Homo sapiens: one gene and its partners. The main gene of each other region encodes a partner of the protein of the gene in region 2 in a complex. Each region holds a gene or a part of one and is shown on either strand. Other genes may lie near its edges. The genes, in order: MYBL1, RBBP4, CHD4, RBL1, MYBL2, RBL2 and CHD5.

Region 1 (4,106 bases), on a different chromosome or scaffold from region 2:
GAAATCATACAGACTACAAGTCATATTCACAATGAAATTATTCAAAGTACAAAAAATTAAGAGTCAGACAGCGGGGTGGGGTGGAGCTATATATATATATATATATATATATATATATATATTTTTTTTTTTTTTTTTTTTTTTTTTTTCTGAGACGGAGTCTCGCTCTGTCGCCCAGGCTGGAGTGCAGTGGCATGATCTCGGCTCACTGCAAGCTCCGCCTCCCAGGTTCACGCCATTCTCCTGCCTCAGCCTCTCGAGTAGCTGGGACTACGGGCGCCCACCACTACGCCCAGCTAATTTTTTGTATTTTTAGTAGAGGCAGGGTTTCACCGTGTTAACCAGGATGGTCTCGATCTCCTGACCTTGTGATCTGCCCGACTCGGCCTCCCAATGTGCTGGGATTACAGGCGTGAGCCACTGCACCTGGCCTGGAACTATACTTCTTACTGACACCAAACACATGAGGTTGGATATGCCACTACGGGAAAAATCATAACCTTGTACGTCATGTTAAGGAATTTGACCTTTATTCTTTATTTGACCTTTATTCTAAAGAGTTAAATAATTTTAACACAGCAAAAGACAAAAGACAGATATCTTGTGTTTTAGAAAAATCAGTGACAAGAGTGTGGTGAAACTGAAAAAGAAAAACCAATTAGTAATCTTCACAACAACCCAAGCAAGAAATTATTGGGGCCTGACAAATGGTAATGGTAAAATATAAACCGCAGCCAATTAAAAGACACAATAGAAGTGATCCAATTAACAATACCAACAATAAAAAAAATTTAACATACAAGATAAAGGTACAGTAAGTGACAAGACACTGTTGTGAGACACAGATGTCTTGAACAAATGGAAGAACATTCTGACTTTTTTTTTTTTTTCCAGACAGGGTCTCAGCTTGCTCTGTCACCCAGGCTGGAGTGCAGTGGCACAATCACAGCTCACTGTAGCCTCAAACTCCCAGGCTCAGGCAATCCTCCCACCTCAGTCTCCCGAGTAGCTGGGACTACAGGCATGCACCATCATGCCCAGCTAATTTTTTCTATTTTTTGTAGAGATGGGGTTTTGCTATGTTGCTCCACCCGCAATGCTGGTCTTGAACTCCTGAGCTCAAGTGATCCTCCTGCCTCAGCCTCCCAAATCCCACGCTTGAGATTACAGGCATGCATCACCATGCCCAGCCTCCTGACCATATTATTGGATAAGAAAACAATATTATAGATATGTCCATTCTCTAATTTAGGGAGATGTCCATTCTCCCTAATTCATAAATTAAATTAAATGAATAAAAATACCAATAGACTTTGGGAGGCAACTAGACAAGCTGAATCTACAATTCATATGAAAAAAAAAAATCAAGAAGAATGGCAAGAAAAGTTTTAAAAAAGAATAATCAGAGAATTACCACTACCCAATATCAAAATACACTGTAGAGAAATAAAACAGAATGGTACTACCACACGAACACACACATAGATAAATGGAACAGAACATTTAGAAAAGAAAAAAGACCCACATGGAATTTGGTAAATTATAACAGTAACATTTCAAATCAGTGGAGTAAAGGTAGACTTTTCAATAAATGGTGTTAAGACACTGGGTAGCCATTTTTTAAAATTAAGATGGGCTGGGCGTGGACACCTGTAATCCCAGCACTTTGGGAGGCTGAGTCGAGCAGATCATTTGAGGTCAGGAGTTCGAGACCAGCCTGACCAACATGGCAAAACCCTGTCTCTACTAAAATTGCAAAAATTATCTGGGTGTGGTGGTATGTGCCTGTAATCCCAGCTACTTGGGAGGCTGAAGCAGGAGAATCGCTTGTACCCAGTGAGCCAAGACTGCACCACTGCACTCCAGCCTGGGCAACCAAGAGAACCTCCATTTCAAAATTAAAAAAAAAAAAAGATGGTGTCCTACTTTACAATAAAATAAACTGGAGTGAAGCAATTATTTACATTTTTTACATGAAACCATAATAGTACTATAAGAAAACAGAAAAGAAGTCTACTTTTCATATCCTTGAGTAAAAGACAGGTAAATGTGACAAAAATCTGGAAGTGATAAAATAGATCAACCAAGGTAATGATATTAGGAATTGAAAGAAATATATTAAACTGAGAGATATTTAAAAAGTAGAAAAGAAAGGATTTTGCAACTGATAGATGAGGGACATGGAAGAAGGAGGAATTAAGGATGACTCCAAAGTTTCTGGCTTTGAAAACATAAGTAGAGCTATTTACTATGGAAAATGATAGAAGGAGAAACAGAACTTTGGGAGAGAGAAGAAAATGGGGAGAGTATGTATAGTTTGGGACTAGCTGTTTTCAAGGTACTTGAAAAATACACAGGTGGATGTCTGGAACAGCACTTCCCAACAGAGACATAATACAAGCCACATATGTAATTTTCTAGTAGCCACATTTTTTAAAAAAAGAGAAATAAGTGAAATGTACTTCAATAGTCAATATTCCTTAGCTTAATATATCAAAAATATAATCATTTCAACATGTAATCAACATAAAAAAGTATAAATGAAATGTTTTACATATTTTTTTCTTACTAAAGTCTTCAAAATCTGGTGTGTGTTTTGTAGTTAGAGTTCATTACAATTCAGACTAGCCACAGTTCAAGAGCTCAATAGCCACATGTGGCTAATGGCTATCCTACAGGGCAGAGCAAATCTAGAAGGCAAATGAGCATGTGGACCTGCTCAAATACAAGGTCTAGGGTAGAGATGCAGTTTTGGCCAGCATACAAAGAATAGCTGAGGGCACAGGATGACCCAAGGAAAATTAATAAAGTGAGGAAGGGGCCAAAGTCAGAACCTGAGTTTTGATGGAGTAAAAAAAGAAAAAGCAATTTTAAAGAATAAAGCCCCATAAAAAAGGGCAAGCCTTAATGATAAACTGAAATACAAGGCCAGGCGCAGTGGCTCCCACCTGTAATCCCAGCACTTTGGGAGGCTGAGGCAGGCGGATCACCTGAAGTCAGGAGTTCAAGACCAGCCTGGCCAACATGGTGAAACCCCTACTAAAAATACAAAAATTAGCGGAGCATGATGGTGGGTGCCTGTAATGCCAGCTACTCGGGAGGCTGAGGCAGGAGAATCACTTGAACCCGGGAGGTAGAGGTTACAGTGAGCCGAGATTGCACCATTGCACTCCAGCCCAGGTGACAGAGCAAGACTCCGTCTCAATAAATAAATAAGTAAACTGAATTAGAGGATTCTGAGTAGGCAGTGGACTGAATAAAGTCATGGCATCTGAAAATAACACAGTCTACCATTTATTTAAAACTTTCTAAGTAGTCTATTAAATTTTTCTCTTAAAGCCTCACAACTGGAAGAGGGGAATATTATCATTATTCCCATTTCACGGAATAGGAAACTTTGACTCAGAAATGTAACCTCTTGCCCACAGTCACTACTTAACCGCTATACTACGACATACTGGAAAAATAGGGGGAAAGTGCTAGGAAGCTGGAAGATACTAAAGACAAACCTCAAGTTCATTTTGGAATCAGAACAAGGTTCTGGTTCTAACTTAATTACTCACTCTGTAACCTTGAACATGTTAACCTCTCAGGGGTTTAGTTTACTTGTTTGTAAAATGATAATAATACCACCTACCTTATAGTGCTGCTTTAAGGATAAAATTAAATGAGAAAACATATATAACACCTCATACAGCACATGGCACAGAAAGGTGCCTCAATATTAGTATTACGTGCATAGGCTGATCACCTAATAGTATTCAAAATTATTTTTGCCTTACTAGATTCAACTCTTTCTCAAAAATTCATTCTGATTTCACAGAGCAAAATTTGAAGATTTGTTTAACCTTACTCTAATATAGTTAAGCGCATGCAAGTAGTTTCTAATATCTATGTAAGTTATGTAATTTTAATCTTACAAAATTGAAAAATGAAGGCCCAGATTTAATATATACTGTCTATAGATCCTTTGTAGGAACGTCTAACTTCCATTGACTTGTCAATTCCATTGGAACAAAATTCTTCATATTTGACCAGGCAAAACACCAAGATTCTCCCATTCCCCTATGATCTGCTTCTACAGTTCAACACACTTCAATAGTCCA
Region 2 (4,106 bases):
TATACTTTAAAATGTCTCTAGATTACCTATAATACCTAATATAATGTAAATGTTATATAAATAGACTATATTGTTCGGGGATAATGATGAGGGGGAAATCTGTACATGTTCAATACATATGCAATGTTTTTCTGAATATTTTCAATTAATGGCTAGTTGAATTCATGGATAAAGAACCCACTGATATGGAGAGCTGACTGTATTTCTTATTAGTTATTTAACTACCTGGAGTCACGGGGGTAGGAAAGCACTTTATAGTGCTAGCAAATGTATAGATTACATCTAGTATTATGCCAGTTTGTTGCTAAGGAAAAAAAATCCTTTCCTGTGTTCTTATACTCTGGGTAACCTCTAGAGTAGCTCTTGTTTTGTCCTCATTTGCAATTAATTTATTCACAGAATTTGGAGGTTTTGGTTCAGTTAGTGGAAAAATTGAAATAGAAATCAAGATCAACCATGAAGGAGAAGTAAACAGGGCCCGTTATATGCCCCAGAACCCTTGTATCATCGCAACAAAGACTCCTTCCAGTGATGTTCTTGTTTTTGACTATACAAAACATCCTTCTAAACCAGGTATGTGCCCTTTTCTATTCAAATACAAATGAGTCACTATAGAAATACATGGTTCCACTCACTGTGAGTTTAATTGCATGTTACTCTGTGTAATTTAACATCTTGTGATTTGTATTGATATGTGTATATTTTTCTTCATTTTGCCTCCATGAAAAAATAATGCTTTTTTACATAGAACAAAATACTGGTGCTGTTTAAGCATTATCTATTTGATCATAACGGTTCCTATATCATTTATAAATGTTAAGAGCTTTAGACATCTTGACCAAAATTCCATTATGCTCAGTAGGCCCAGAGAGCCAGTGGACTGGGTAGTCTTGATGTGTCTGTCACTTTGCAGATCCTTCTGGAGAGTGCAACCCAGACTTGCGTCTCCGTGGACATCAGAAGGAAGGCTATGGGCTTTCTTGGAACCCAAATCTCAGTGGGCACTTACTTAGTGCTTCAGATGACCATGTGTGTATCCTTCCCATTTTGAAGCAAATCTGGGCTAGTTACCAGTTGGTTTCTTTTTTGGGGTGTGTGGGGAGGTGAGAATCTTCCTTTTATATAATGGTTAATTTTACATTTAAGACCATCTGCCTGTGGGACATCAGTGCCGTTCCAAAGGAGGGAAAAGTGGTAGATGCGAAGACCATCTTTACAGGGCATACGGCAGTAGTAGAAGATGTTTCCTGGCATCTACTCCATGAGTCTCTGTTTGGGTCAGTTGCTGATGATCAGAAACTTATGATGTGAGTAGAATCCATTCAGAGTTTCTAAATATCTTGTCTAAGTTTTATGTTTAGTCACCATTTCAAGGTTTTTTTCCTTTGTTTTTTTTTCACTGAAGTTGGGATACTCGTTCAAACAATACTTCCAAACCAAGCCACTCAGTTGATGCTCACACTGCTGAAGTGAACTGCCTTTCTTTCAATCCTTATAGTGAGTTCATTCTTGCCACAGGATCAGCTGACAAGGTCAGTTTCGTTTATTTTAATAGAAAACATAATTTCTCTAGGTTTTTTTGAATTGCAGAGATATTTTACTTACAGTATTTTTTTTTTCTTAAAAAATTGATTACTCTTGCTTTTCTTTTTGTACATAGACTGTTGCCTTGTGGGATCTGAGAAATCTGAAACTTAAGTTGCATTCCTTTGAGTCACATAAGGATGAAATATTCCAGGTAAGAGAAACTAATGCTACTATTTTGTTTGTTTTAAGAAAAACCTGCTGGGCGCGGTCGCTCACGCCTGTAATCCCAGCACTTTGGGAGGCTGAAGCGGGCGGATCACAAGGTCAGGAGATCGAGACCATCCTGGCTAACACGGTGAAACCCTGTCTCTACTAAAAATATAAAAAATTAGCCGGGCATGGTGGCGGATGCCCGTAGTCCCAGCTACTCGGGAGGCTGAGGCAGGAGAATGGCATGAAACCCGGGAGGCAGAGGTTGCAGTGAGCCGAGATTGTGCCACTGCACTCTAGCCTGGGCGACAGAACGAGAGTCCGTCTCAAAAAAAAAGAAAAAAGAAAAACCTGGATGTATGAGTGGGCACACATGTGCTTTATGCCGTTGCTAAAAATAGAAATCTATATGCCTATGCTACTTTCTGTGGGAATTGTTTTTTCTTTGTTATTTCTATACTTTCTCAAACTGGTTATTGACCACTTACATTCTTCAGATATTAAGAAAACTAGGCCAGGTATGGTAGCTTATGCCTGTAATCCCAGCACTTTAGGAGGCTGAGATGGGTGGATTGCTTGAGGCCAGGAGTTTGAGACCAGCCTGGCCAACCCTGTCTATTTTTTAATAAAAATTTACAAAGAAAGGAAAACTAGTGCCTGATTATTTTTTCAGCCTTGTTTCTGACACTTAGTGATCTCTTCCCTTCTTCCAATATATTCTTCATCCTTCATTACTTGCCACATGTGTTGATTTCTCAACCCAAGCCTCAACCTCTGGCTCCATATTTTCTACCTCATCAGTTTAAACCCATTTATGCCTAGTGTTCCATTATTGGAACGCTAAGCATGTGGGAGTTTATATCCTGCTCAAGGTTATCGCCCAGGTCTGATTGCAAAAATTAAAAAAAGAAATAATCACTGCACTATGTTCAAAGCTTGTTGCTACGGCACTATGAAAGATTACGTTATGTAGCCTTTGCTATCAAGGAGCCCCCAATTTTTTTATTTTTTTTTAATTAATTTTTTTGAGACGGCATTTTGCTCTTGTTGGCCAGGCTGGAGTGCAATGGTGCAATCTCGGCTCACTGCAACCTCCACTTCCCAGGCTAAAGGGATTCTCCTGCCTCAGCCTCCCAAAGTGCTGGGATTACAGGCGTAAGCCACCACGCCCAGCCGAGCCCAAAATTTTATAGTGAGGGAGGGCTTGTTTAGAAATTACTATAATAAAAGATTTTGTCAAGTGTTATGAACCTGAGGGTGGTAAAGATTAATTCTGGTGTGTGAAGGTGGCGTCTGAACTGGGCTTTAGGTGAGCCATACTCCTACATACTTAGTCTCTTATTTTCTACTTTTCAGCCCACCTTGGTGAACATTTTATCCTTACCCTATCTCTTTGCTTTGCTTGTGACGGTATTCTTGCCTGGACAGAATCCAAATTCTTCCTTAATTGCTGGTCACTAATGCCCTCTTTTTCTGTACCTTAAGGCTAGGTAGCACTTTTACCATATTTGGTAGCAAACTCTGATTGTTGGATATATAGTAGTAAATTTTTTGTCTGACTCTTTAATAAAATTATTGCATGGAGTCATTTTTAATCAGACTTATATGTAATACAGAACTCATAGTAAATACTTGGGGACATAGTTATTGTATATGTCATCTGTACTTTAGTTCTTAGGTCAGAATTGGATTGCATTTGGGTAGAGGCCAGAATTAGCAAATAAGAATAGACAAGATGTAGGCCGGGCACGATGGCCCATGCCTGTAATCTCAGCGCTTTGGGAGGCCGAGGCGGGTGGATCATGAGGTCAGGAGTTTGAGACCACCCTGACCAACATGGTGAAACCTCGTCTCTAATAAAAATACAAAAATTAGCCAGGCATGGTGGTGCACGCCTGTAATCCCAGCTACTTAAGAGGCTGAGGCAGGAGAATCGCTTGAACATGGGAGGAGGAGATTGCAGTGAACTGAGATCACCCCACAAGAACAGACAAGATGTGATGTTTCCAAAGATAAAATGATGCTGGGCACATGGCACACACCTCCAGCTACGCAGGAGGTTGAGGCAGCGAGATCCCTTGAGCCCAAGAGTTCAAGTCCAGCCTAGAAGCAATATAGCGAGGCCTCATCTCTTTTTTTTTTTGATACCAGCCTAACCCCATCTCTACACAAATACAAAAATTAGCTGGCCGTGGTGGCGGACACCTGTAATCCCAGCTACCTGGGAGGCTAAGGTGGGAGAGTCGCTTGAACCTGGGAGGTGGAGGTTTCAGTGAGCTGAGATCCTGCCATTGTACTCCAGCCTGGGTGACAGAGCAAGACTTCCGTCTCAAGAAAAAGTGTGCCAAAGGGGTGCTGTGGGAATGGAA
Region 3 (4,106 bases), on a different chromosome or scaffold from region 2:
TCAGATTCCACATCTAAGTCATCATCCTCACTCTGGCAGGATGAAAAAGAATAAGGTTAGACGTTCAAGCCAAGGGGAAGGACAGAGTGGCAGAGAGGGGAGTACTCTCTCACTGGGGACACCAGAATCCCAGCAAGCACCGTTATACAGGGAGCCTAGTCTCATCTTGTTCTGTGGGAAACGCCCCACATTCTTACGTGCCTACTATGAAGGACAGGTTCTGATAGAAGGTCACATCCTTTCTATTAGACATGGCACCCTCCCTAAAGCGATGGGCTGGGCTCTCACCGAGGATCTCTTACGCTTGGAACCAAAACCTCCCAGCTTGATTTTCAGGGGAGCTACTTTCTTGGGTTTAGGCTTCTTGGCATCAGGTACACGAGGGCTGCCCTTGGGCTTCCTCCGAGCATTGGGACCTAAAATCAGGATATATCCAAATATATACCACAAGACCAAAGATGGGGAAAATAAAATCTTCTCCACCTAAGCTTGCTTCCCCACATTCAGATTCCCAAATTTCCCTCCAAAATCCAAGACTCATTCCTCCCTCCTATCTCCTACCTTAGGGCTGACAGACCAGCATTCCCATGCTGTCTTTGACATCTTAAGCCCACACTAGACACCCCCACTCCCATTTGAACCCCATTTCACCTTTGCCCTCCTTGGTCTTGGCCTTGCGGATAGGCACCTCCACAGGGGGAGGTGGTGGTGCAACCTCAGTGGCTGTCACCATGCTCTCCACCACAGCTACCGCTGCTGCTGCCGCAGCTGCCACTGATGCCCCAGAACTGCCTTTGAAGGGGTTATTGGTACTGAACTCCCGCCATTTTGCACCCAAAACCATCATCATCTTGGAGACAGCAATCTTGGGATTTTTGGCAGCAATGAGGGGTCTGGTGGAGAAATGCACAAGAGCAGAGGGAAAGGTTTAAGAATAAAAAAAGAAAGAGAAGTAAGAAGAGAGAACAGAAAGATTCTCCTCCCCCTTCCCCAAACCCCTTCTGTTTTACCTGACAAACTGGCTGAAGGCCTTGTAGTTGGTGAGGGTTCGATAATCCTCCTCTGAGAACACGTGGTCAATGTCTTCCATGCCCCAGTCTTCCAGGAGCTGAGCAGATGATTTAGGCTCCTGCAGAAAGAGCAAAGTCAAGTAAGTACCTGCCACCTAGTGCCCACACTTGCTAAGCAAATTTGTGTGGAAAAATCAGAGTAACAGAGTTAAGAGGAAAAGAAGAGAAAGTGTTCTAAAGGGCAGTAAGGTGTCTAGGAAACAAAAAGACAAAAGTTTAACAGTACAAAGAAGAGGATGGAGGTCCAGGCACCTTTGAATCATCATCATCATCCTCCTCCTCCTCCTCCTCCTTCCGCTTGGATTTGCTCTTCTTCTCTTTCTTAGGTCCAAGCTTCTTCTTCTTCTTCTTGCCAGGAGTATAGTCGCTGCCCTCACTGTCTGAGCGCAGAGCCACCTCTTCCTCCTCCTCCACAAACTCTGGCCCCTCCCCAGAGCTGTCCCCCAGCTGCCGGCATAAGAGCATACGCTGGAGCAGGGCAAGGGGGGAAGAGGGAGACAGACACACACATGCTACACACATGCTGACCTCAGGACAGCCCTGAGGCTCATCCCCAGAACATGGCCCACCACTTCTGAGAAAGAAACAAATGCCCTCAGCCCTTCAACCCTTCTCAGAGCTCCTCCCTTCTTCCTCTGATTCCCCGTAACATTCAGTCACCCACTCACCTCCTTTTTTTGGCGCTTGCTCTTAGGGATTTTAGGGTCCCGAGGTTTCTTAGGCTTTTTCTTCTTCTTGAGCTTTGGAGTCTCTGTTTCTGACAAATCCTCTTCTGGGTCCTCTTCATTTTCTACATATATTTGGCAAAGAGTGGTAGGCAGGGAAAAGATCAATAGCAAAAGGTTAGGCCCTAATCCAGAGGCTTTAGACTTTATTCCCCACCTCTTGTCCCAGATTCCTCTGAAGAGAACTGCTATACTCTGTACAGGAGGAAGCTGATACCCAGGACAAAAACAGACAAAGAGAGAGCTGTATATACCCGAAATAGGCCTGCCAGGCCAGACCAGGCCCACCTCGGGCAGCTGTCCAGACCCCTGCCTCCTCTCTCCCGTTCCTACCAGTCCTCTAGATGTTCACCAGTACAGCTGAACTGAGCTGCTCAGAGTTCACCAAGTAAGAGAACTAGATTTAGGCCTCCTGTAACTGGCCACCAAGTTATTCTATAAACCAGGGAATGAGAATGAAAGATCCTACTCAGAAGGCAAAAACTATAGAATATACCTTCCCAGAACAGGATCAGTTCAGGGGTCTCGGAAACCACACCCTTCTCTAACCACTTTGAAGTCATCACTGCTCAAATTAACCAGAACCTCCAAGTCCTAGGTTCAGGTGCCAGCTCAATCTCATGCCCACTTCTAAAATACAATTTCCTTTCCCCATCTCCAACCCTAATGTTCCTCCTCAGCTTCTCCTGGGTCAGCAGCCTCTTCTCCCTAGGGGCCCGAATCAGCCCAGCTGTCACCATCTCCCCTACACCCGCCCCCCAGCAAGCCTCCTCCCATCTGGCTCCACCTCCTCCCCTGGCTGGAGGCACACACAAAGCCTGGGTAAGACTGAAAGCTCCTGGGCAAGGATAGGTGGGAAGGGACACAGAGAAGACCAGGAGGCAGCTTCCTTTGTAACAGACATTCACACTGGCTCCGACTCCCTCCTCCCTCCTCTCTCCCTCTTCCCAAGCCACCCCCGCCCAAAGGGGGGTGGGTAGAGAAAGGAGTGGAGAGAAGAAGGGAGTGCCTCACCCACTGAGGAGAGGGAAAATGGCTCCTGACCGCAGAAGCCAGCCCAGGGCACCCAGCTGCCAACATAGGACAGACAGGAAGTGGCAGGGGAGGGGGTGGGTTTGAGAGAGGTGGGGTGGCGGGGGGGGAGACTGCCCTCATAGAAGCCTCCCCAAATTACCTGGCCCCAGGTCCAAATGCCACCTACTCTGGGATGACAACAGTTCACAAGAGCCCACCCTAACATCCTAAGCAAGGAAACCCAAGGAAAGCGAGACAAACATGAAGGTAATACTAAGAGAAGAACTCGATCACTCCCTCAATCATAATTATTTTTTCAATCATCAGAGCTGAGATTTAACAAAGGCTCAGTGGACTTGTGGTCAGCGCATACAACCTTCTCCCCAAATTTCTGATACCCAAAAGATTTAGTTTGAGGAATGGAGGCCCACAAGAAGTCTCTGAAGCTCAGCTTCCTCACCACTCCCACCCAGATTCCTATCCAACATATGGGAATGTCTGCACAAAAAAACAGAGCAGGACCTAGACAGTGGTAGAAGAGAATATCCCAATCGGGTGCAATGGCTCATGCCTGTAATCGCAGCACTCTGGGAGGCTGAGGCGGGCAGATCATTTGAGGTCAGTTCGAAACCAGCTTGGCCAACATGGTGAAACCCTGTCTCTACTAAAAAAACAAAAATTAGCCAGGCATGGTGGTGGGTGCCTGTAATCCCAGCTACTCAGGAGGCTGAGGCAGGAGAATCGCTTGAGCCCGGGAGGCGGAGGTTGCAGTGAGCCAAGATCGCACACTGCACTCCAACCTTGGCGACAGAGTGAGACCCCATCTCAAAAATAAAAAAGAAAATAATATCCCTCCTTCAATCCCTGACATGTTCTTAGCTCTTAACCCCCAAAATTAGCCCTAAAATGTCTCTGGCTCCCCACTTCCTGAGCTAGACAGATACTAGGGAATGAGACATTAGGCTGGACAAAGCACCATCAGCCTCCCTGCTTCTCAGCCCAGAATAAGACCAGGCACAAGAACGCCCCTCCCATTCCCCCTTGGGAATGCAACATCAGCCTGGATTTCACCAGAAAGAATCATTTTCTTAAGGACTTTTCCCCACCAATCCCCAAGTCAACCCCCAACCCCCATCAGCTACATCTCACCACCCCCATAAAAGCTGGAAGTGGAGACAAAGACAACCCATGGAGGCAAAGGGGACATCCTTCCATGCACATGGAGCCCCCCAAACTTCTCAGGCAAATAATATGCTGAAATGGCAAACCGCAAACTTACTGAGATATAGAGAAGATT
Region 4 (4,106 bases), on a different chromosome or scaffold from region 2:
ACAGATGACATAATCTTGTGTATGGAAAACTCAAAAAACCTAAAGAATCCATAAAAACTGATAGAATTAATAAACAAATCAGCAAAGCTGCAAGAAAATCAATACAACAACATCTCTTGTGTTCCTTTACATTAATGAACAATCTAAAAAATGAAATTAAGACAATTCTACTTACTTATTACTTACAATAGCATCAAAAAGAATACTTAGGAATAATCTTAAGCAAGGACTTGTCTTGCAAAAGACATATACAGAAAACTACAAAATGTTGCTGAAAGAAATTAAAGAAGACGCAAATGAAAAGACATCCTATGATCATGGACTGGAAGACTTGACATTCTTAAGATGTCAACACTAGCCAATGCGATCTCCATATTCAATGCAATCTCTGTCAAAATTCCACAATGTTTTTGCAGAAAGAGAAAAATCCATCCTAAAACTCATACAGACTCTCAAGAAATCTTAAATAGCTAAAACAATCTTAAGAAAGAAAAACAAAGTTGGAGGTCTCACACCTCCTGATTTTAAAACTTATGACACAAAGCTATGGTTATCAAAACAGTGTGGTACTGAATACAGATAGACATATAGTCCAATGAATAGAATAGAGAGCCCAGAATTAAACCCCCATATCTATGCTCAAGTGACTTTTCAACAAGGATTCTAAGCTCATTCAATGGGAAAGGGCAGTCTTTCAACAAATCGTGCTGGGAAAAATGGATATCCATGTGCAAAAGAATGACTTTAGACCCTTATCTAACACCATATACAAAAATTAAAATGGGCTGGGCGTGGTGGCTCACGGCTGTAATCCCAGCACTTTGGGAGGCTGAGGTGGGCAGATCACTTAAGCTCACGAGTTGAGACCAGCCTGGGCAACATGGTGAAACCCCGTCTCTACAAAAAAGTTCAAAAACAGGCCCGGCGTGGTGGCTCACACCTGTAATCCCAGCACTTTGGGAGGCCAAGGTGGGTGGATCACCTGAGGTCAGTAGTTTGAAACCAGCCAAACCAGCACGGTGAAACCTCGTCTCTACTAAAAATACAAAAATTAGCCAGGCGTGGTGGCATATTCCTGTAGTCCCAGCTACTCAGGAGGCTGAGAAAGGAGAATTGCTTGAACCCGGGAGGCAGGGGTTGCAGTGAGCCGAGATTGCGCTACTGCACTCCAGCCTGGGCAACAGAGTGAGACTCTGTCTCAAAAAAAAAAAAAACAAAAACAAAAAACCCAAAAAACGAAAATTAGCTGGGCATGGTGGCACATGCCTGTAGTCCTAGCTGCTCAGAGGGTCGAGGTGGGAGGATCATCTGAACCTGGGAGGCGGAGGCTGCAGTGAGCTGTGACTGCGTGACTGCACTCCAGCCTGGGTGATAAAGTGAGACTCTGTCTCAAAAAAAAATAGACATAATAAATATAAGAGCTAAAAACTATAAAACTCTTAGACGAAAACATAGGGGAAAAGTTTTATAATACTGGATTTGGCAATGATTTCTTGTGTATGACACCAAAAGCACAGACAAAAAATGAAAAGAATAAATTGACTTTATTAAGATTAAAAACTTTCATGTGTCAAGAACACTATCAACGGAATGAAAAGGCAACCCACAGAATGGGAGAAAATACTTGTAAATAGTATATTTTATAGGAGATTAATATCTAGAATACATAAAGAACTCCTACAATTTAACAAAAACAAAACCCAAAACTCATAATTAAAAAAATGGGCAAAAGACTCGAATAGACATTTCTATAATGAAGATATATAGATGGGCAAAAGCACATGAAAAGATACTCAATATTACTAATCATTAGGGAAATGAAAATTGAAACTATAGTAAGATGTCTCTTTATACCCATTGGATGGCCATTATCAAAAAAACAAACAAACCAGAAAACACGAAACGTTGGCAACGATGAGAAGAACTTGGAACACTTGTGCCTTGCTAGTGGTAATGTAAAATGGTCCACCCACTGTGGAAAATGGTACGGTGGTTCCTCAGAAAATGAAATACTAAATTACTCTCCCATTTCTGGGAATATACCCAAAGGAATTGAAAGCAGAGACTTGAATAGATATTTGTTGCTATTTTTTTTTCTTCTTAAGACAGGGCCTCGTTCTGTTGCCCAGGCTGGAGCGCAGTGGTGTGATCTCGACTCACTGTAGCCTCAACCTCCTGGGCTCATGTGATCCTCCCACCTCAGCCTCCAAAATAGCCAAGACTATAGGCATCTGCCACCATACCTGGCTGCTTTTTTTTTTTTTTTTTTTTAAAATAGAGATAGGGTCTCACTGTGTCGCCCAGGGTGGTCTCAAACCCCTGGGTTCAAGTGATCCTCCTGCCTCGGCCTCATAAAGTGCTGGGTTTACAGGCATGAGCAACCACGCCTGGTTTGAACAGACACCTGTACACAAATGTTCATAGCAGCATAACTCACAATAGCCAAAAGGTAGAAGCAACCCAAATGCCCATCAGCAGATGAATGAATAAACAAAATGTGGTATTAAAAAAAAGTATATTCATATGATGGAATATTTTTTCTTTTGTTCTTTTTTTCTCTTCTTCATACAATGGAATATTATTCAGCCTTGAAAAGGAAGGAAATTCTGGCACAAGCTATAATATGAATGAACCTAGAAGACATTACGCTAAGCCAGTCACAAAAACAAACAAATATCGTATGACTTCACTCATAGGAAGAACCTAGAGTAGTCAAATTCACAGAAACAGAAAGTAGAATAGTAGTTGCCAGAAGCTGGGGAAAGGGAGAAATGGATACAGAATTTCAGAATGGGAAGACGAAAAAGTTCTGGAGATAGACGGTAGTAATAAAGCTGCACAACAATGTGAATGTATTTAATACCATTGAACTGTACACTTAAAAATGGTTAAAATGGTAAATTTTGTGTTATGTATATTAGAAAAAAAAAAGACCAAAGTCTGTCTCTGTTACTCAATCTTTCTTCCATTGATTAAACAAATTCTTCTAAAGTGCTATAAAAACACATACCTTTCTGTAAAATAGTGCTAAGGACCCAGTTCTCTTTGGCCTGTTTATTCCAGTTGAATGTACCTCTTGTGCTTTAGTCAGATTGGTCTGTTTTGGAGAAGCACCAATTAATGAATGAGCAGTAAGTGATACAGGACTCTTGACTTTGGACTCCTGATTTGTATTCATGGAAAGAGGTATCAGTGTGATCTCTCCAGCATCATTTGCGACACCTGAATGTATAAGCATTATTAGAAATAATCTGCATATGTTCTAGGAAAGTTGTCAACTATATATATTTTGACAATTATATATACATATATCTGTGTGTATAAGAAGGCTACAAAATAGTAATTCTAGGTTATGACTGAATTCTTTTTTTTTTTTTTTTTGAGACAGGGTCTCACTTGGTCACTCAGGCTGGAGTGCAGTGGCGCCATCTCAGCTCACTGTGGCCTCGACCTCCTGGGCTCAAGTGATCCTCCCATTTCAACCCCCGCAAATAGCTGAGACTACAGGTGCAAGCCACTATGCCTGGTAAATTTTTTTTTTTTTTTTTTGAGATGGAGTCTTGCTCTGTCGCCCAGGCTGGAGTGCAGTGGCGTGATCTCGGCTCACTGCAACCTCTGCCTCCCGGGTTCAATTCTCCTGCCTTAGCCTCCTGAGTAGCTGGAACTACAGGCACATGCTACCACACCCGGCTAATTTTTAAAATATTTTTAGTAGACACAGGGTTTCACCATGTTAGCCAGGATGGTCTCGATCTCCTGACCTCATGATCTGCCCTCCTCGGCCTCCCAAAGTGCTGGGATTACAGGAGTGAGCTACTGTGCCCGGCTTGTATTTTTTTTTTAGAGATGGGAGTTTTGCCATGTTGCCCAGGTTAGTCTCGAACTCGTCAGCTCAAGCCATCTGCCTGCCTTGGCCTCCCAAAATGCTAGGATTACAGGCATGAGCCACTGCAGCTGGACTTTTTTTTTTTTTTTTTGAGACAGTCTCACTCTGTCACCCAGGTGGGAGTGCAGTGGCCTCATCTTGGCTCACTGAGACCTCTGCCTCCCAGGTTCAAGCAATTCTCCTGCCTCAGCCTCCTGAATAGTTGGGACTACAGGCATGC
Region 5 (4,106 bases), on a different chromosome or scaffold from region 2:
TGATCTGACTTACCCACTTTTTGCACACTGTAGGTCTTCCCTCACTGCTAAATTTCCAAATCCTCATCCTTAGCTCAAAGGTCACTTTCTCCACATAAGTTTCCTTAACCTCTTCAGGCAGCAGTAATCTCTCCTTCTAAAGGTACTTGCCATCCACTCATCTTACAATTAGCAGGTGCCCAGAGCTACAACAGTGAGCACCAACAGACACTGATCCTACCGGTGCCGCGGATGACCACAGCACATTCCAGGGACCTGCACACGGTCTTATCTCTCCATTCCAGAGAGAAATCTGCTCTGGGGTAGGAACTTGGTCTTGTTTATTCTTCTAAGCCCACAAGAGCCAAATATAGTCCCTGGTCCACAACAGGATGAGCAGAAAAGGTTTGCTTAGCACGCATCTGGAAAAACATCTTTCATGATTTAAAAGGAGTTTACCACTCACACAGCAAGTTTTAGAAAAAACAAAACAAGCTAGTCATGGTGGCTTCTGCCTGTAATCCCAACACTTTGGGAGGCCAAGGCAGGAAGATTGCTTGAGCCCAGGAGACCAGCCTGGGCAACATAGCAAGACCCTCTTCTCTATTTAAAAACAAAAAACAAAAGCAATACAAATAATACAATACAAAAAAAAAAACCCAATCCTAAAATTAAAGACATCTATGATGTTAACTATGGGTTGAAAACAAAACAAAACAAAAAACACTGAAGAACTGAAGACACTAAGAAAAACTGAGGTAAAATAAAAAGGCCAGTAGAAGTCTAAAATGGTACAATCCATTAAGAAAAAGGCAGTTTCTGTAAAACTAAACATACACCTACCCCATGACCATACCTATCTTCCCAAAAGAAAGGGAAACATGTATTTGCAAAAAGACTTATGCAAGAATCTTCAAGGTAGCGCTATACACGATAGCCAAAAACTGCAAACAGTCCAAACATCCATCAACAGGTGAAACGCTGTGTGGTATACCCATACAATGGACTACTATCCAGTGATAGAAAAGGACAAGTTACTGAATCACCCAACACAATGCTGAGCAAAAGCCAGACGCAAAGAATGTAACCGTATGATTTCATTTATAGAAGATTCAAGAACAGGCAAAACATATTATCCTAAGCAAACACAGGAACAGAAAACCAAATACCGCATATTCTCATCTATAAGTAAGAGCCAAACACTGAATACACATGGACACGAAGAAGGGAACAAGGAGACCAGGGCCTACTTGAGGGTGGAGGGTGGGAGGAGGGTGGAGGGTGGGAGGAGGATGAGGATCAAAAAACTACCTATTGGGGCTGGGTGCAGTGGCTCACGCCTGTAATCCCAGCACTTCAGGAGGCTGAAGTGGGAAGATCACCTGAGGTCAGGAGTTCAAGATCAGCCTGGTGAACATTTTAGTAGAGACAAGTAGAAACCTTGTCTCTACTAAAAATACAAAAATTTACCAGGCGTGGTGGCACGTGCCTGTAATCCCAGCTACTTGAGAGGCTGAGGTAGGAGAATCGCTTGAACCCAGGAGGCAGAGGTTGCAGTGAGCTGAGATCACACCACTGCACTACAGCCTGGGCAACAGAGAGAGACTGCCTTAAAAAAAAAAAAACTACCTATTGGGTACCACGCTTATTACCTAGGTAACAAAATAACCTGTACATCAAACTCCCACGACATGCAATTTACCTATATAATAAACCTGCACATATACCCCTGAACCTAAAGTTAAAAACAACACACACACACACACACACACACAAAGCCCCCAAAAAGAAAAAGGCAAAACAAATCAAATCAGCAATTTCCTGGAGCTGGGGAAGCCTGACCACAAAGGACCACAGAAAACTTCTTGGGATAATCAGGGTGGTGCTTACATTGGTATATGCATTTGTCAAAAGTGATCAAACCGGCTCACCGTAGTGGCTCATGCCTGTAATCCCAGCACTTTGGGAGGCCAAGGTGGGTGGATTGCTTGAGGTCAGGAGTTCAAGACTAGCCTGGCCAACATGGTGAAACCCCATCTCTACAAAAATACAAGAATTAGCTGGGCATGATGGCGGGTGCCTGTAATCCTAGCTACTCAGGAGGCTCAGGCAGGAGAATCGCTTGAACCCAGGAGGCGGAAGTTGCAGTGAGTGGAGATCACGCCATTGCACTTCAGCCTGGGAGACAGAGACTCCATCTCAAAAAAAAAAAAAGAAAAAAAACTGATCAAACTGTTCACCATAAAAAGGGGCATTTGGCCAGGGACAGTGGCTCATACCTATAATCCTAGCACTTTGGAAGGCTGAGGTGGGAGAAATGCTTGAGCCTAGAAGTTTGAGACCAGCCTGGGCAACATGGCGAGACCCTGTCTCTACAAAAAATACAAAAATTAGCCAGGCGTGGTGGCGCATGCCTGTGGTTCCAGCTACTCAGGAGGCTGACGGGGGAGGATTGCTTGAGCCCAGAAAGTTGAGGCTACAGTGAGCCATGCTAGCACGGCACTCCAGCCTGGGTGACAGAGCAAAAACCCTGTCTCAAAAAGGAATTAAAAAAAGGGCATTTGATTGCATATGATTACATATAAATTATATTTCAATCACATTTATTATAAAATAAAAAGATGGAGCTAGAAGGAAACCAATTCAGGGCTTGATGTCAGAAGGTTCAATACAGTTAATTATTTTAGAAAAAGAAAGTGGGAGTTGGCAGGGTGCGGTTACTCATGCCTGTAATCCCAGCACTTTGGGAGGCCGAGGCAGGTGGATCACCTGGGGTCAGGAGTTCGAGATTAGCCTGGCCAACATGGTGAAACTCCGTCTCTACTAAAAAATACAAAAATTAAGGCCGGGTGCAGTGGCTCACGCCTGTAATCCCAGCACTATGGGAGGCCGAGGCGGGCAGATCATGAGGTCAGGAGTTCGAGACCAGCCTGGCCAGCATGGTGAAGCCCCCGTATCTACTAAAAATACAAAAAAAAAAAATTAGCTGGGCATGGTGGCGCATGCCTGCAATCCCAGCTACTCGGGAGGCTGAGGCAGGAGAATTGCTTGGAACCTGGGAGGCAGAGGTTGCAGTGAGCCAAGATCATGCCACTATACTCCAGCCTGGGTGACAAAGCGAGACTGTCTCAAAAAAAAAAAAAAATTAGCTGGATGTGGTGGCTCACGCCTGTAATCGCACCTGAGGCAGGAGAATCGCTTGAACCCAGGAGGCAGAGGTTGCAGTGAGCTGAGATTATGCCATTGCCCTCTAGCCTGGGTGACAAGAGCGAAACTCTGTCTCAAAAAAAAAAAAAAAAAAAGGGTGGGGGGAGTTACAGATTTGGCCAAACCTCCTAGCAGTCAAAAGGCAAAAAGCACAATCAATGTCCATGACATAGAACATGGCAGCTGCTCAGGAGACACAATGGGCCCTGAGGTCTAGGACACACATCCCCTTCCCACCCACTGAGTCCTCAAAATTGAGAATCCCCCAGAATGCTCTGAGAAGAGGCATGAGGACAATCAGAGGACCCATCCCTTCCTTCACCGGCTCCTCCTCTTCATCCCATCTGATGAGACATCAAATACACTCCAGGCTCAGTTCCTCTGGACAGCCCCCAGCTGCCATCAACCCTCTCTTCCCCATGGCACTCACCTCCTCATGGGTCCATTTGACCTTGCACTTGCTATCCCTCTGCTCCGGCACATCTGAATCTGTGTCCTGGTAGTGCAGCTCATCCAGATCCTCGCTATGGGGAAAGCAGGCCAAGGGTCAAGGATGGTGTGTCCATATGTTTTACATAATGGAGAACGTGTAGGCAGCGGCCAGCCCACCCTAGGGAAAGGTCTGGGGGAGAGAGGCTCTTACTTTTTCTTCTTTTTAAGACATAGGCACTTCTGCTTCACTTATTTTTATTGAGACAGGGTCTCACTCTGTCACTGGGCTGGAATTCAGTGTGGCATGATCGTAGCTCACTGCAGCCTTGAACTCCTGGACTCAAATGATCGTCCCGCCCCAGCCTCCTAAGTAGCTGTGACTACAGGGGTATGCCACCACGCCCGGCTAACTTTTGTATTTTTTGTAGAGACGGGGTCTCACCATATTGCCCAGGGTGGTTTTGAACTCCTGGGCTCAAGCAATCCTC
Region 6 (4,106 bases), on a different chromosome or scaffold from region 2:
CTTTGTAGAGAGGTGGTAAAACACCTTAATCAGATTGAAGAACAGATCTTAGATCATTTGGCATGGAAACCAGAGTCTCCACTCTGGGAAAAAATTAGAGACAATGAAAACAGAGTTCCTACATGTGAAGAGGTTTGTGAAAATAACATCTTTTTATGAGAAAAATACATCAATATCTAATCTATTAATAATCCTTTTGGGGATGGGAGGGTGGCAATTAGGTTTAATATGTTATAATTACACCTTGTTATGAGAAAAATCTTGGACTGTAACGTCCCTCTCTACCCACAAATTGGGAAGGTGCCAAGAGACCAAAGAATGACTCAGACAAGTCCAGCTTGGTAAGTAGATAACGTTTATTAAGACTTACATATGGAGGAGGCAGAGGTGGTGGGGAAAAATAAAAGACTTATATACAGGGTACTCCTAGGTAGCAGCAGGACAGCTCTAGAGATCCTCGCCACCTCCCATCGCTAAGCTGCTTTTAAGCTAATTTTCTGGCTCTTTGCCTACTATGTGTGTGCACGATGGGACTGTTTTCCTTGGTAGTTTCTCAGATCTTCTCTGGGATGTTGGGGTTCTCAGGGACACCTGTTCCTTGGCTGGGCACCATGGCCTTGGCTCACTGCCTAGCCTTCAGGGTTTAGGCAGCAGACATACACCCTTAAGTAAGGTAGGTGACCTGTCACATTTCACCCCATGTCAAAGAGGAAACGAGTCAGATAATTTGTGGTTGTCCTAAGATTTTGGTGACAGAGTAAAAATTCAGTGTTCTTTCTTGATTTCCTTACCAAGTTTCTTTCCCATAGAGCAGTGGTCCAACCTTTTTGGCACCAAGGACCAGTTTCATGGAAGACAATTTTTCCATGGACAGGGTTGGGGGTTGGAGAGATTTTGGGATGATTCAACTGCCTTACATTTATTGCACACTTTATTTCTATTATTATTACGTGGTAATATATAATGAAATAATTATACAACTCACCAAAATGTAGAGTCAGTGGGAGCCCTGAGCTTGTTTTCCTGCAACTAGATGGTCCCATCTGGGGGCGGTGGGAGACAGTGACAGATCAGCAGGCATTAGATTCTCATAAGGAGCATGCAACCTAGATCCCTTATGTGTGCAGTTCACAATAGGGTTCACACTCCTGTGAGAATCTAATGCCACCACTAATCTGACAGGAGGCCAGCACAGGCGGCAATGTGAGCGATGGGGAGCAGCTTTAAATACAGATGAAGCTTTGCTCGCATGCTCACTTGCCTGCTGCTCACCTCCTGCTATGTTGCCCAGTTCCTAACAGGGTCCATGGCCCAGGGGTTGGGGACTCCTGCTTTAGAGTGGTTGATATTCAAACTCTCCAAACCAGTAATGAAGTTTGACTCATATTTAGTATCCAATTACAAGGTTTTGAATTTTTTGACTGCCAAAAGTTTTTTTTTTAACTTTATTATTAAAATGGGAAAGACAGCTGATTTTATTTAGATGGAATAATTGTTAAGATACTTTTTCTGCCTTAGATTACTATTGTATTTGTAATTAAAGTGCTTTTTTGGATACTGGCATTCTGTGTAACCAATTCTTCATAGGTCATGCCACCTCAGAACCTGGAAAGGGCAGATGAAATTTGCATTGCTGGCTCCCCTTTGACTCCCAGAAGGGTGACTGAAGTTCGTGCTGATACTGGAGGACTTGGAAGGAGTAAGTTTAAAATACTAGGAGAATATTTTGGGGCTTACTATCTGGAAATTTAAATTTCATCTAACCCTACAAGTGAAGTTAATAGGGTATACATAGAAGAAAATATTCTATGCATTTTTGTACCACATGGATCACTTAAAAGAAGGGCCTTTAAAGACTAAGAACACAGGAAAATGCATGATATAACAGGTATCTTTTAAAAAGGATAGACTGCTTTATTTATTTATTTATTTATTGAGACAGAGTCTTGCTCTGTCACTCAAGCTGGAGTGCAGTGGCCCAATCTCAGCTCACTGCAACCTCTGCCTGCCGGGTTCAAGCGATTCTCATGCCTCAGCCTCCTGAGTAGCTGGGACTACAGGCATGCGCCACCACGCCTAGCTAATTTTTGTATTTTTAGTAGAGAAGGGGTTTTGCCATATTGGCCAGGCTGGCCTTGAACTCCTGACCTCAAGTGATCCGCCTACCTCGTTCTCCCAAAGTGCTGGAATTACAGGCATGAGGCACCGTGCCCGGCTGACTGCTGTATATTTAATATGATCCCTATTTTTAAAGTGTATGTTTATTTATGAGCATACAAAATAGTGGAAATGGAAAAACCAAACTGTTAAGATCATTGTTGGGTGATAGAATTCCTGGTGATTTCTGTAAAATTTTTAAGGCAAATACATATTACTTTTAAAATCAGAAATAGAAAAGCCTTCTTAAAGATAGAGCTGCATGATCCAGTTAGGTATAGACAAGCCAGTGAGTTAAGACAACTGAGTATGTTCCACTTTGTTGAGCTGTGCTACCCTAGTTAATGTGACATTAGTGCTGGCCCAAGAAATACAGAAAAGGGCAGTTTTGCTATCTATCTGGTTTGTATTTTTTAGGCAGCTGCTTAGAAGATCTGCAAGGTGAAAGGTTTTAGTTTACATATGTGAGATAGAACTACTTTTTTAAAGAGCAATTCAGTAAATCCAGAGAGTTCTAAATCCTTGGATCCAATTAAAAGAATATTCTTATTTCTAGATCAGTTTTATAATGTAATTGATAAGAACTGGCTATAGAAGGAATACCAGTTTTAAAGTCAGGATTCACTCTAGGCTGGGCATGGTGGCTCATGCCTGTAATCCCAGCACTGTGGGAGACCTAGTGGGGAGGATCACTTGAGCCCCGGAGTTCAAGACCATCCTGGGCAACATAGCAAGATACCATCTCTACCCCCAACCCCCCCAAAAAAATCACTCTAAGTGTATACTTAATACACATGGATGATCCTTATGAAAAGTCCTCATTTTTGAAAGATCTGACAGCTGGTCTTTCTTAGTCTATTTTTGTAGAATTTTCCGTTCCCTAATCTACAGATTAGGAAGACTTGACTTTAAACTTCATTTTCTTTGTACTTACCACTTCTCAGTTTTCCTGAGATCTCTTGATATTTTATAAGAAAAAATGATCATAATCTATTCTTTCTGATTCTGCAGCTTTGTACCAAATACAAATCTAGTAAGTTTATTTACTTTTGTATCATCTGGAAATAGAAATGTTAAGCCACAGTTTGTTAGGATTTACTCCTATCAGTACTTCTTACAAACTTTCTATGTATATTTTAAATTTTAAAAACACTCTGATGCACAGCTCTTAGAAGTGGACACAGAAGAAGGAAGAAATGCTTCTCAAAAATTCAGACATTGGTGTGAATACTTAAAAATAGACTAAGCCATAATGGGTTGTGTACCACTGAATCATACACTTAAAAATGGTTGAATGGTAAATTTTATGTTATATATATAACCACAATTTTAAAAAACTAGCCTGTAATACCAGCATTTTGGGAGGCCAAGGCGGGTGGATCACCTGAGGTCAGGAGTTCGAGACCAGCCTGGCCAACATGGTGAGACCTCATCTCTACTAAAAATACAAAAATTAGCCATGCCTTGTGGCATATGCCTCTAATCCCAGTTACTTGGGAGGCTGAGGCACAAGAATCACTTAAACCCAGGAGGCAGAGGTTGTAGTGAGCCGAGATCAGGCTACTGCACTCCAGCCTGGGTGATAGAGTAAGACTCTGTCTCAAAAAATAAAAAAAATAGTAACAATTTGCCCCAAACCATTGAATTGTATAATTTAAGTAGATGAAATTTATGGTATATAAACTGTTTTAAAAAAATAAATTATGCTTAACTGAATCCAAATCATGCATGTCCACCTTGCTTAAGAACATTATTGAGTTTTAATAATTTTTTATATGTGGAAAAAGACAGAGATCAAAATTGATAAAACCGGTGGCGGAATGCTCCTAGATGACATACTACCAATCAGGTCCCCTTATCAAGTAGTGGCTCTGTAGTAAAATCACATCTTACATGAGTGGTAGGTAGAAAGTGGATATGATAGAAAATATTATAGAAAAATATAATAT
Region 7 (4,106 bases), about 26 Mb from region 2:
CAAGGCCACCAGGAGGTCAGGAGGAGGGAGCAACAGGGGCAGCAGAGGCTTCAAGCTACCCCTCCTGGAGGTGATACCAGCAAGTCCCCTCCCCACTGAGCCTCTCTCTTCATCTGTGAAATGGGCCTAATGTGGCAGCCTTTCCCCCAGGGCTATGGGGAGAAGTAAAAACTGTGAATGCAAAGGACCCACACGATGCCTGCAGGGGCTCAGCAATGGCAGGCAGAGCCCAGCGAGACCCAGGAGGGTCAGGGCGGCAGTGGTGAAGGGCAGAGGGCAGCGGTCTCTAGTTTGGCCACTGCTGGGCCAGAGGTTCTCAGGGCCACCCTAGACGCTGGCCAAGGAGTTCTCAGGCTGCCGTTAGTCCTCGAACCTCCCCCCATGAGACAGGGCTTATGCTGGCAAAGGGGGGCAGTACACCGCCCAAGAGAGGATTCATAATTTATTTATGACATTTAACAAAACCCAGACATCACCTCATTGGTGTCACATCAAAAGAAAGCATCAGTCCTGAGTGGGGAGTGGAGGGAAGAGACGGGGATAGATGAGGCATTTACCCCAAGTGACTGGGGCCTGGGGGGAGTCACCCTGGGGGTGCAGGGAAAGCAGGGAGAGGCCCAGGGCATGGGTGGGGAGGAGGAGGACAGAATGGTGAGAGGGGAAGTCAACCTGGGGGGACAGGGAGGGACAAAAGAGAGAAAAACGGCCAGACAGAAAGGGAGAGGCAGGGGCATGACCTCAGGGGAGACGAAAACTGACAGATATGGGGACAGAGGGAGAGAGAGAGACAGGGAAGGAGAGTGAAATAAGGACAGAGCCACAGAGATAAGCAAAAGCCCAGAAAGTTAGACAACACACATTGTGTTCAGTACCCAGCTCAGAGAAGATATTCCAGAAGTCTCTGATGGGTGGACGGATAATTGTATAGTGAATGGATGGATGGTGGATAGGTGGATGGATGAATGCATGGTGGATGGATGGTGAATAGATTGATGGATGATGAATTGATGGATAGATGGTGGGTAGATGGATGGATAGATGGATGGATGGTGGGTGGATGGATGGATGGATGGATGGATGGCAGATGGATGGACACTGGACGGATGGTGGATGGGTGGATAGTGGATGGATGGTGGATGGGTGGATGGACGAATGGATGGTGGATAGATGGTGAATAGATGGATGGATGATGAATTGATGGATAGACGGTGGGTGGAAGGATGGATGGTGGATGGGTGGATGGATGAATGGATGGTGGATGGATGGTGAATAAGTGGATAGATGGTGAATTGATGGATGGATGATGAATTGATGGATAGATGGTGGGTGGATGGATGAATGGTGGATGGAAGATGGAGGATGGACGGATGGATAAATGGATGAATGGATGAATGACGGATGGATGGATGAAAGATGAATGGATAGATGGATGGATAGATGGTGGGTGGGTGGATGGATGGATGGTGGATGAAGGATGGATGGTGGGTGGGTGGATGGATGGATGGTGGATGAAGGATGGATGGATGGATGGATGGATGGCAGATGGATGGCTGAATGGATAATGGATGGATGATGGATGGATGGTGGGTGGATGAATGGTGGATGAATGGATGAGTGGATGGTGGATGGATGCATGGATGGATGGTGGATTGATGAATAGATGGACAATAGGTGGATGGATGGATGGCAGATGGATGGATGGTGGGCGGATGGTGGGTGGATGAATGAGTGGTGGATGAATGGATGAGTGGATGGTGGTTGGATGCGTGGTTGGATTGTGGATTGATGGATGGATGGTGGGTGGATGGATGGATGGATGCATGGATGGATGGTGGATGGATGAATGAATGGATGGTGGATGGATGAATGGATGGTGGATGAATGGATGAGTGGATGGTGGATGGATGCATGGATGGATGGTGGATGGATGCATGGATGGATGGTGGATAGATGAATGGATGGATGACGGGTGGATAGATGGATGAATGGTGGGTACAGGAATGGATGGATGGTGGGTGGTGGATGAATGGATGGAAGCATGAATGGTGGATGGGCAGATGGATGGATGGTGGATGGGCAGATGGATGGATGGTGGATGGGTGGATGGTGGATGGACAGATGAATGAATGGTGGATGGATGGATTGGAGGATGGATGAATGAATGGTGGGAAGCATGGACAGATAGTGCATGGATGAATAGTGGATAAGAAGAACAAGAACAAATGGATGGATGGATGGATGGATGGATGGACGGACGGACGGATGGATATACATATGGATAGATAGGTGGATGGTGAATGGTTACTTGGTTGGTTTTGTGGGTCGACGGGTAGATGTGGGAGAGCAGGTAGATACATGGATACATGGATGCATGGATGGATGGATGGATGGTGGGAAGCATGGACGAATAGTGCATGGATGAATAGTGGATAGGAAGAACAGATGGATGGATGGATATGGTATGGATATGGATTGATAGGCGGATGGTGAACGGTTACTTGGTTGGTTTTGTAGGTGGATGGGTAGATGTGGGTGGGTAGGTAGATGGATGGATGGATGATGGGTGAGCGACTGAATGAACTGATAAAATGATAGATGGATCCTATTACCTGATCAACTTGGAATGACAATGAATAACCCACTGGCCAAGCCACTGGGCAAAGTGTGCTGGTCATTTTGTCTCCCTCCTCCCAGAAAAGAATGTTAAATACAATCAGGCTCCCTGGGACCCCCCTACCAAACCATGCTTCCACAGGGGTAGGGGTGCAGGCTAAAATGTCATGGCCTTTTGGGAATCATGACTGTCACTCTCTCCTGGCCCCTGGACCTGAGGAAGCAAGCCTAAGATACTTACACATCTAGGGCCAATTGTCACTGGGGCCAGAGAGGTAACGGTGCCTAGTCCAGACATTGCCCATTCTGGGCTCACTAGCTTTGTCTGTGATTGAGGAAAAGCTGGGCCAATGAGGCAGGGAATTTGCCAGCCCAGCAGTGGCCCTAAGAGGGCTGAGAGCCACATTTTCTGAAGCCCTCTCCTGCTTCCTGCCACCCCTACCTTGGGCTTCACAGCCCTCCTCCCACCCAGGCTCCTACTCCCCTGAGCTTACTGGCTAAGGATGCAAGTATCAGAAGCATTTCCTTGGAGAAGGCAGGACAGCTGCCCTCCTTGGCTGGTGCTAACTACACCAGCCACAGTTTATTGAGCACCTATCATGTGCTGGGCACTGTGGCCTAATGTTCCACATGCACTGTCTCACTGTTCCTCATAATAACCCTCTATGAGGTAGCCAGTGCTATGTCCCCATACTACAAGTGGGCACACCGAGGAGAGGGCTGCCTGGCTTGTCCAAGACCACTCAGCTAATGCTCAGAGCTAGAAGCCAAGGCCTCATCCCACCAGCTCTTGACCCCTGGCTTCAACCAGCCACCCCAACTCCCAGGAGAATCTGGCAACTGCTGGTCCCCCAACCAGAAGAGGCACCCGCCCTGCCTTCCTCCTAGAAGCTGGCTCAGACACCTGCCTCAATGCCAGAGCTGGCCAGGGCAAACCTCCCCCTCCCCACCATCACTGCACGGGAAACAATAATTCACTGCTGAGAGTGAGCAACTCCCAGGGGGAGGTGGGAGATGAGCAGAGTCAAAGAAAAAAGATCGGACAAGTCATGAGTTTAATAGCCGTAGACTGAAAAATCATCATGACAGCTTCCAAAACACTAGCTCCTCCAGCCACAAACTTCCATCTTTTGGAACCAGCTGGTTCTGGTCTTTGGGGGTCACCGCCACTGAGCTTGGACTCAGGGCTGCATAGGGGCTATGAGGAAGAGCTCAGGGTGAGTGGGGGGCCAGCAGTGCGACTTGACAGGAGGCCTGGCTAGGGCTGTCTTCACAGCCAGAAGCTGGGGTGACCTAGAGAGTCCCAGCCCTCAGACACTGAAACCACAACCATCTCTCAGGAACGCATGGTTTCAGGTGCTGGGCATGGCAGGTTATCGAGAGTTACATTCGAAGGGGAACCCACAGATCCAGGAGGAAACTGATGACAACGTTTCGAGTATGTGAGGTGTGGTGACACAAGCATGTAGTCCCAGCTACTAGGGAGGTTGAGG

Evidence for each region.
Region 1: RBBP4 (region 2) and MYBL1 share a complex: the UniProt entries of both Homo sapiens proteins name them as parts of the DREAM complex.
Region 3: RBBP4 (region 2) and CHD4 share a complex: the UniProt entries of both Homo sapiens proteins name them as parts of the nucleosome remodeling and deacetylase (NuRD) repressor complex.
Region 4: RBBP4 (region 2) and RBL1 share a complex: the UniProt entries of both Homo sapiens proteins name them as parts of the DREAM complex.
Region 5: RBBP4 (region 2) and MYBL2 share a complex: the UniProt entries of both Homo sapiens proteins name them as parts of the DREAM complex.
Region 6: RBBP4 (region 2) and RBL2 share a complex: the UniProt entries of both Homo sapiens proteins name them as parts of the DREAM complex.
Region 7: RBBP4 (region 2) and CHD5 share a complex: the UniProt entries of both Homo sapiens proteins name them as parts of the nucleosome remodeling and deacetylase (NuRD) repressor complex.

Annotation. Positions count from the first base shown.
Region 1 is NC_000008.11:66,602,613-66,606,718, forward strand, and holds part of MYBL1 (myb-related protein A), read right to left. Parts: intron 1-4,106. UniProt on the Homo sapiens protein: Transcription factor that specifically recognizes the sequence 5'-YAAC[GT]G-3'.
Region 2 is NC_000001.11:32,667,826-32,671,931, forward strand, and holds part of RBBP4 (histone-binding protein RBBP4), read left to right. Parts: intron 1-399; coding exon 400-573; intron 574-913; coding exon 914-1,029; intron 1,030-1,146; coding exon 1,147-1,307; intron 1,308-1,405; coding exon 1,406-1,532; intron 1,533-1,660; coding exon 1,661-1,738; intron 1,739-4,106. UniProt on the Homo sapiens protein: Core histone-binding subunit that may target chromatin assembly factors, chromatin remodeling factors and histone deacetylases to their histone substrates in a manner that is regulated by nucleosomal DNA.
Region 3 is NC_000012.12:6,600,638-6,604,743, forward strand, and holds part of CHD4 (chromodomain-helicase-DNA-binding protein 4), read right to left. Parts: intron 1,861-4,106; coding exon 1,739-1,860; intron 1,539-1,738; coding exon 1,323-1,538; intron 1,130-1,322; coding exon 1,011-1,129; intron 894-1,010; coding exon 652-893; intron 417-651; coding exon 289-416; intron 33-288; coding exon 1-32. UniProt on the Homo sapiens protein: ATP-dependent chromatin-remodeling factor that binds and distorts nucleosomal DNA. Acts as a component of the histone deacetylase NuRD complex which participates in the remodeling of chromatin.
Region 4 is NC_000020.11:37,029,655-37,033,760, forward strand, and holds part of RBL1 (retinoblastoma-like protein 1), read right to left. Parts: intron 3,223-4,106; coding exon 3,011-3,222; intron 1-3,010. UniProt on the Homo sapiens protein: Key regulator of entry into cell division. Directly involved in heterochromatin formation by maintaining overall chromatin structure and, in particular, that of constitutive heterochromatin by stabilizing histone methylation.
Region 5 is NC_000020.11:43,673,410-43,677,515, reverse strand, and holds part of MYBL2 (myb-related protein B), read right to left. Parts: intron 3,711-4,106; coding exon 3,617-3,710; intron 1-3,616. UniProt on the Homo sapiens protein: Transcription factor involved in the regulation of cell survival, proliferation, and differentiation. Transactivates the expression of the CLU gene.
Region 6 is NC_000016.10:53,465,471-53,469,576, forward strand, and holds part of RBL2 (retinoblastoma-like protein 2), read left to right. Parts: coding exon 1-132; intron 133-1,587; coding exon 1,588-1,699; intron 1,700-4,106. UniProt on the Homo sapiens protein: Key regulator of entry into cell division. Directly involved in heterochromatin formation by maintaining overall chromatin structure and, in particular, that of constitutive heterochromatin by stabilizing histone methylation.
Region 7 is NC_000001.11:6,173,460-6,177,565, forward strand, and holds part of CHD5 (chromodomain-helicase-DNA-binding protein 5), read right to left. Parts: intron 1-4,106. UniProt on the Homo sapiens protein: ATP-dependent chromatin-remodeling factor that binds DNA through histones and regulates gene transcription. May specifically recognize and bind trimethylated 'Lys-27' (H3K27me3) and non-methylated 'Lys-4' of histone H3.